Linked DNA regions of Homo sapiens: region 2 is linked to region 1. Evidence: fine-mapped expression QTL. A gene starts in region 1. The other region holds a variant in brackets. All regions are shown on one strand. Distances are from middle to middle.

Region 1 (4,378 bases):
AATTAACATCAGGGCTTCTTCTGTAAAAGGAATTAAGAAGAGCTGTCTCATAAATATATTCAATGAGAAGAGAACTTTTAAAGGTATGAGACTTTCAAGGTAACTGTTTCTAATAATTTGGAGAAAAAACACAAAAAGAAGAAAAAAGACAATGTCTTTTTTTCTGTGTCTTACTCTTCTTTTGTAACTCACAGCATCTAATTTTCTAGGCAGGTAGCAGGATCTCACCTGTCAACTCTTAACAGAACTGAAGGCATTATAAACTGTTTCTGAAATTAACATTCAGATTCAATTACTTATGATCCATTTTTCTGTGGTAAAAGGAATTGGTCACATTAAAATAGGATATGTCATAATTTTCAATAGGCTACCTTGTTTGTATTACTTATATTTACACTAAATATAATTTAACATTTTCTTTTGTCAGAACATTTTCCTATTATCACTCAAAATTTAGGAACAATCTTACCAAAAAAAATTGCCTGAAATGAGTCCATGCTTAAATGGAAGAATTAACTTTTAAGTTCTTTACTGATGAGGGCATTTGCTTATACATTTTTAAAGTTTGGAATTAAGTGCACTTTTACTTGAAAAAACTATAAAAGGATAAGAAAATTGATGAGATGATAACTGTAACCCTTTGCTGTGGTTTTTATATATATTCCTAGGCTTATACTTTACAGTCGGACAGTAATGGCGATCAACCTTCTACCAAGACACGTTGGCTCTCATTAATGAATAATTCTCCCCCCACCCCGATTTTCTAGGAGCAAAATAGAATTGTAGAAAAAAGCGGTTTGGGAAAATATTTTAAAAATTTGTGGTAATATTTTATGGACAATTGTATTGTCGTCATTGTCTATTAAAAGAGGTTAAACCAGGGAGAATAAATTTATGGCTATTGCTTTTTACTCCTCAAGAGACAGGAAAATGAACATTCTGCCTGAACTGCTCTAATATAAGGTCCTTACAGAACAATTTCATTAAATGGTCTTAGTAGGACAGAGTGACGGTCTCTGCCATTGGTAGGAAAAGTAATGGACTATTTCTGGATAAATCACATTGTGATCTGAGCAGTGTACAGACATAATGATGTGGTAGCCAAGGGTACTGGTGATATATGTTTGCTGGTGTCAGTAAATGGGTAGAAAAGCATTGATTGAATGATAGTCTTGACATTCAGACTTAATATTTATGTATTGCAGTGTGAAGCAAGTAGAATGATAGTATTCTTGTATTGCACAACTCTTTTTGGAAAATTATCTCTGTGTTAAGTTAAAGCTACACTAGAGTGTGCTTATGATAGAGTAGGTAATATTAGAATAAAACTCAAGATCTAGAAAACATTTGGAGATGCCTATATGGGAAATCAAAAAATTTTAGTTAATTAGTAGATTATGGCCTATAATGATCTATTCTCAGGCCTATTTTTAAGTTATAGCCATGTTAGGACATGGAAAGATGTTAACAGGGTCCTCTGACAAGTTTTTAAAAATGAATTCCATTTAAAGCTATCTATATTCACTTTATTTCTTTTACATGAGTTTATCAGAAATAGTATTAAATTTGGGGATCAACAGATATTTAATTAAAAGTGAACTAAATTTTTTTTCTCTTCTCAAAGGCTATAGATAAATAATACAATGTGCTTAATATCTGATTGCCATTGAGGTGATTGATTTGAACTACAAAAATGAGATGAAACCCATTAAATTATGCAATTTTTTATTAATGACCTTTTTGCAAAGAAAATCATGTAGAGTTTCAAAAGCACATAAAGGTAACAGCAATTTTTATCATCCAATTACCTATGGCTAATAGTATTGTCCTGATATATTTTGGCAAATCCATTATCTTTTTTGCTGGCCTTTCTGCTCAGAATAAAGAACATATTTCTTCAATATCCACTCTTTTTCTTAAGGATTCAAATGGACCTTATATCCACAGGAAACTCCTCTGACTATTGTATAATTTGATGAATGTTGAGAACTCTGTCAATGCAGCAGTGATTTGTCTCTGTATTCTGGACTTGATTTAGCTTTATTCTTTTTCTCATAGGCATTCTGAAATATTTATGACAAAGTGCATTGGTAATCTGATGTAGGAGTCCTGTGAGAAACAAAAAGAACTAATTACTAGCAAATTTACAACCAGTAGCGCATCCTTTCAAATTCTGTGCAACTTTTAAAAGAAGCAAAATAATGGATAAAATAATAATATAAATTTAATACTTTTAAAAAATTCTATAATTGTTTTTTTCTCAATTCTTGCACATTTCATCAGTTGATCATTAACCCGATTGTGTTAGTTCTTAATACAAATGTAGTGAACACCTGCTTTTGTTCTAGAGGAATTAATCAAGCAATGGTCAAGATAAATGGAGTTGGCCTTGATCGCTCAGGTGTTTATGTACAAGAGTTTTCCAGCAAGCGTATTTTAGTTGTAACATTCCAGTGAATAATCAGAAGTCAGTTTGGGGTAAGTACCTTAGAAATAAATAGCTTTTGAATAAGTATGTATGCAATAACATTGCCTATGAATGTTTAGTAGAGTATGGAATGGCATTTCAATTTACTTTGGTGTAAAAATCATTTGAATTTATTTAATTAACATATCGCTTTTATTCTCCTTAAATGATTTCACCACAAATCAGAAGATCCAGTTCTTATAGGACTATTCATCAGGTTGTTTAGTTCAGCATTACTTTGTGCTTTCTGATAAGATATGATCCAAAACCTGATGAGGTAAGTGAGTTTTTAAAACCAATATTTGTCTGAGGTTATAATTTATTAAGTGCTTAGAAATTTTCTAGAAAAAATGGATGTGGATGCTCAAATAATATAAATTTAATTATTAAGATTATTAATAATAATGAGAAGGAAACTCTAATACTGAGATTCTACCACAAAGAAAAAAATTACATTTTTAATAATACTGTTCATTATTCCAATATAAACCAAATACATAAAGCTATATCTAATGTATTTCCAGTTGATAACTTAAAGGTACTAATAACATTTTGACTACGTATCTACAAACACATATTTTGGTCAGAAGTCTTCTGAGAAATTGAATATATTAGAAGATAATGATACACAGACATTTATTTTGCATGTAAAACTTCTCTTACTCACTGGTTTTTAACTATTGTTGCACTCTCATTTATAAGCTCATATGCTAAATTAATCCCTAATGAAACATTTGCTTGATATTAATAGCATATAGGTCTATATCTAAAGTTTACCAACACATTTTCTAACAATTGCTTTGGATTGTTTTTTGAGGCTTTTGTCTTTTGCAAATATATATCTAAACAAATACAGTTTAACAAAATACATTGAAGGATAAATAATGACTCCATAGTTTAATTTGGAACAATATTTGACTATTAGTAATCTTTATATATAAATATAGTTGTTCTTAGGGACTCCTACCATTTATGGTACCCTTAATGATCTGCAAAACACTCTAGAAATGTAAGTCTCTACTTAAGGCTGACAACAGACTATTCTAAAGGCTTTCATCTTTACCCCTAATTAAGGGTTACTTCCTAGTAACTTACTGATGGATAAGTTTTTAAGGATTACTAACATGTATTATTTATAAGGTAAAATTATTGTTACTAAAATTTATGAGGCCTTGGAGTCAACATTCTACCAAATATGTGGTAATATTGCAAAACTAATTCTGCTTGAGATATAATCAAATGGTTGAATTTCCTGCAATTTTAGTGGAGAGCACTTTAATAGGGTATTATTAGTCTTGTGAATTGTTTATGGTTTTTAATTGCTGCTACTCTTACATTTGTTAGTATTTCTGTCAATTCTTTGATATTATATTTCATTTTATTTATATTTTTTCTTTTATAATTTCAAGTTTTATTACAGATTAATGTACATGTGCAGGTTTGCTACATGGGTATATGGCCTGACACTAAGGTTTGGGGTATAAATGATCTCATCACCCAGGTAGTGAGCATAGTACTTTATTGTATCATTTATATTTGATTGCCATTTTGTTTCAAACTTTGCAGGTTTTCTGCATTGTATTTGTCTTCTTTTGGAAAAGCAGGAAGAGGGCTTTGGGTTATTTTGTCCTAAGAAATAAAGCGTGAGGAAAATTGTAAAAAGTTAGCCAGATTACTCAGTTGCTTTAGAATACATTAATTTTCTAATATTATAGGTCTAAAACCACACTGGAGTAAGTCTGTTTTTATTCCATTTCTTCCTCTTGATCTATAAATTACTGTAGAGTAGACAGCACAGAAGGTTTACCTGATGTCAGAGTTACAGTTATCCCACTTAACCATGAGAAAAGATAGAAAAAAACTATTGTATAACTATTTGGAGATACCATTGCCATTGATAACATTCCAACA
Region 2 (4,418 bases), 28 kb after region 1:
GGCTCACGCCTGTAATCCCAGCACTTTGGGAGGCCGAGGCGGGTGGATCACGAGGTCAGGAGATTGAGACCATCCTGGATAACACGGTGAAACCCCGTCTCTACTAAAAATACAAAAAATTAGCCGGGCGTGGTGGCGGATGCCTGTAGTCCCAGCTACTCGGGAGGCTGAGGCAGGAGAATGGCGTGAACCCAGGAGGCAGAGCTTGTAGTGAGCCTAGATCGCGCAACTGCACTCCAGCCTGGGCAACAGAGCGAGACTCCATCTCAAAACAAAGCAAAACAAAACAAAACAAAACTCCTATGCCCAGTCCACACCCCAAAATAATTATATCAGTATTTCTGGAAGTGAAATCCAGACTCCAAAATTTTCATAGGTTTTCCTAAGTGATATCAATGTGCATGGAAGAACCAGTGCTCCATAGTGCTTTGCAGCTTGCCTTTTTTATTACAAATGTAGTGCATAGACCAACAACAGCACCACTTGGGAACTCGTTAGAAATGCAAAATCTCAGATCCAAACCCTAGACCGACTGAATCAGAATCTGTATTTTGCAAGATCACTAGGAAATTTGTATGTACATTCTAGTTAGAGAACCACTCTTCTAGGCCATATTTCCTTGAACAAATGACATTTTAAATAGCATCTGTGCTGCATATAAATAATGCTTGAAAAATAATTAGAAAAAAGCCCTAAAATAATTATAAATGGACAAGCAACTTTAATGAATTCCTTGTAAGTCTATTTTAATTCCCCATACTATTTGGATTTTAATCAATATTTAAAAGCTATTTATCATTTCAATGTCTTACTGATAAATATATAAAAATTGATATTCATTTATTAATTTCTTGATTAATTTGCAATGCTGCATTGGGCCAATGGATTTTGACATCTGGATGAAACACACTGGACTCCCTTACAATTTTGTCATCTCCTGAAGGATCTTGCATTGCTGTGCTCAAGGAACTTGGATTGTAGGGGATGAACTATATTAATCTTTGAAGAAGTCAAAAGGTTATATTTGGATGAAATTGCTGGATCATGTAGACAAATTTTCCAGCTGCTTTCAAACAGTACTGAGAGAGTCCTTATAGATTATTGTTTGATCTCATTATATTGGTGAAGAAACAGGCCCAGCAATGTAAAGTGGCTTACCTGAGGCCATATTATTGATTGACAGCAGAATTTGAACGCAACTCATGTTCCCTGACTTTAAGTTCAGAGCTCTTTATGTTATTGCCCACTGTCTCTCATTTTAAGTCTAAAATTTTCTAGGATTCTGTAACAATCATTAAGAGAAGGTAGATGAATCAAAGTAAAACTCCTCAGAATAGTCAGTCTGGGTATTTTGACTTTCAGAAATCCACTCACGGACTGCTCAAAAGCAAAAAAAGTCCAAGTATTCACTGTAAATGGGAATGGGAGTAAAACTGATCTTGCTTTTGGATTTATCGTAGTAATTCAGACATGAGCCTATATTCACTGGTTATTTAGGTATACCCTTGATATTCTGGATAGGAGAGTGCCAATCATGTTATCATACTAAGATTATATTTGACTGTTTTATAATTCTAATGATACATAGTGATTTTATTTTTCCTGGGGTCTGAAAATAACAGTACAAAATAATTCAATTATTGGGAAATACAGTATCTGAATTAAGCATAAAACATTTAATCTAGATAGGAAAAATATCTAACTTTTTATATTTTCCTATTCTAAATATTGACAAATACTGTAATGGAGCAACATAATATAAATAATCATAGAAAGTAATTTTTAAGGCAGCAAATTTCTGCTTCAAATCTCATAATAAAAATCTCACACACATTCACTGCACAAATCCTAAAAGCTCTGAGCTCACAGAATAATTTTGAAAGAGTAAGTAAAAAAAAAAATTAATTTGAGCTCAGATGTGATTACCACAAACCCGAAGTGCAAATATACCTAAATAGGAATTAGGAATTACAAACATTGTAGAAATAAATCATATAATGCAAATAAAAAGTGAACAGAAAATTACTGTTTAAAAGATAAATTTTTTCAACTGCTTTCACTAAATTGAATCTGGTATCTGGCTTGCTTCTTCATTGAGCATACATATAAAGTTAGAATTATTCTGTGAGTGACCTAATATTTATTCTTCAGTACTTTGGTTTTTAAATTTATTGCAAATTCCTCTGTATTTAGAAAATGGTTATTTTTCCACATGTTAACTCCTTACACAAAATGACTTTTCCTGTCTACAAAATGTATTATGAATATACTTTCTTTACTGATCTTTTAATGCAAGTATCTAAATAACTGTTGTCTCTATTTTATAGGCATACACATCCCTGTGATCATGAGTCTGGCTCAAAGCCAATTTATAGCAAATCATCCATTTCTGTTTATTATGAAGCATAATCCAACAGGTACCTTTTTTGAGAATTATTTGGGGGAACTGATTATGTTAAGCAGAACTAGTTCCAGTTTCTAATTGCAATGTACATATCTGAAGTCATTTGTTCTTTCAGTGGATATTTGTTAAGTGCATTTTATATACCAGGAATTGTATTTTAAGAGATGACCGAGGCCTAAAATAGGGCAGTGGTAATAATGGCTGCCATCATGGCTACTATATG[C/T]GGTAGCCATTTCATATAACCATCAGTAAAGCTAAAACCACTCCAGAAGATTAGATATTTGACTAGTAAAGAACAAAAGCTCAGAGAAAGATTGTATGGTTTGTCTCAGGTTACGTAGCTAGAAAGTGTCAGAGTGGGAATAAAGGTCAACTGTCTGTGTATGATGCCACATTGGGGATGGAAATTGAGAGGTGTGGAGTTGTGAAAGAATTCAGAGGTGGATACCAAAACAGTAAGTGACTAATGTAGGTTCTGAGGGATAGGAAGGAGTCAAAGGTAATTTCAAATCTTCAACTTGGGCAACTGGTGAAAGATGATGCAGTTAGGTAAAGGGAGTGTAGAAGTAGTGGATTGGATTAGCACTGGGCACAGTGTCAACACAGGGAAATTCAGATTGTCTGGATGGATGCTTCAGCACTTTCTCTTGTGAGTAAGAGAAGCCAGAAATGTGAATACAGTGGGAAAATTGTCAAGTTTATGTTTAGGATCCTTCAGCAGTCATAATGCTCATGTGAGAGTTACATACCACAGGATAGTAGAAATTATATTTTACTCATCTCTGTATTCAGGCCAATATTTGGCAAAATGCCTTGCACATAGTATCAGTTTCCCTATAGACAGAGGGTGTGAAATTGGGTTGGGCTCAATTTCCAGCTGAATTCACTAACAGTTGTGAAACAAGTTGCTTGTCCTTTCTAAGCCACATTTTCCCTATATCTTATTTGAACATAATAGTAGTGCTCATCTCATAGAGTTAAATAAAAGAATTTTTGAAGCCTGTAACACTGTGCCTGGCACATACTAAGTGTTCATTATGAATAAATTAATAAATATGAATGAGGGAGTGAATAAAAGAAGAAAGGCAAGTGAAAAAGTTTAAAGTCATTTACAGGGAGAAGAGACATAGTTAATTGCAGAATCTGAATCTATTAGATGAACTAGCGATACTGATATTATTGGCCCAGTAAGGGATACTTCACTCTTTTTTGGCTCCATGAAACTAATGCTGAGAGACCCTTCTGAAAGTCATATCTTAAAAACAATGAAACAGTTTTAGAATTGATGAGATTGCATTAACACAACTTCAATTCTAGTAATGGCTGTGTCAGTGTTCAAATGTATTCTAAGTATGTCATTTGATCTATGTGTCTGTCTAACCTTTAGATAATTCTAATTTTTTACAATTAATATATAATTATGTAGTATGGAGACAGAAAGAAAAAAAGCTACATTGGGCATCAATGCACAAGTAAATAATGGCATTTAGAATAATTATGTTTTACTCTATTTTCCAGGTTGATGACTTGTTATATGCAAAGGCCAAGTAACAGCTATCAGTAAAACAGCAGCAAAAGTTCAAAACCCAAAATAACCCACTTATCTGTTTATTTGTGATAATGCTTAACTAGCAGGTCTTAATGACAGTTTGAACTGTTTTATGTTCTTTATTGTAGTGAGACTTTCTAAACTAGGGTTACTCCTTTAAAGTATTGTTTAAAATAAATGGCCGCTCATTTATCAGGGACTGTCCGTTGTTGCCATATAAAATGTAGAAAGGGCCGTTATCTTAAGACAATACATATTTAGTGATTTATCAATTTTTCTCTCACAAATGAACTCAAGAAATCATTGAGATTAATGAAGATAGTGATTTAGCATCACCATAGTGAACTATTAAATGGCTTCATGGTATACATAAAGTGTATTCTGTTGATGATTTCTGAAGTATGAGGATGAATGATTTTAGGTTTAGTACAATCAATTTTTACATAGCCTGGAAATTTTCTTTGA

The links. PIP is the estimated chance that this variant, and not a neighbour inherited with it, causes the effect. A credible set is the group of variants that fine-mapping cannot tell apart.
Region 2: its variant is the best candidate, but not a certain one, in a credible set for the expression of SERPINI2 in nasal epithelium (TOPMed, PIP 0.77).

Annotation. Positions count from the first base shown.
Region 1 is chr3:167,472,103-167,476,480 of GRCh38, reverse strand. It overlaps SERPINI2 (serpin family I member 2), which reads left to right and starts at 2,439. Exons shown (of 9, transcript NM_006217.6): 1 at 2,439-2,478. LOC105374197 (a long non-coding RNA gene) reads right to left here. Exons shown (of 3, transcript XR_924683.3): 3 at 2,021-2,109.
Region 2 is chr3:167,444,391-167,448,808 of GRCh38, reverse strand. SERPINI2 (serpin family I member 2) reads left to right here. Exons shown (of 9, transcript NM_006217.6): 8 at 2,328-2,417. Among named protein-coding and RNA genes, the nearest start is that of SERPINI2, 27 kb to the left of the region's middle. The variant C/T (reference allele first, on the strand shown) is at 2,628.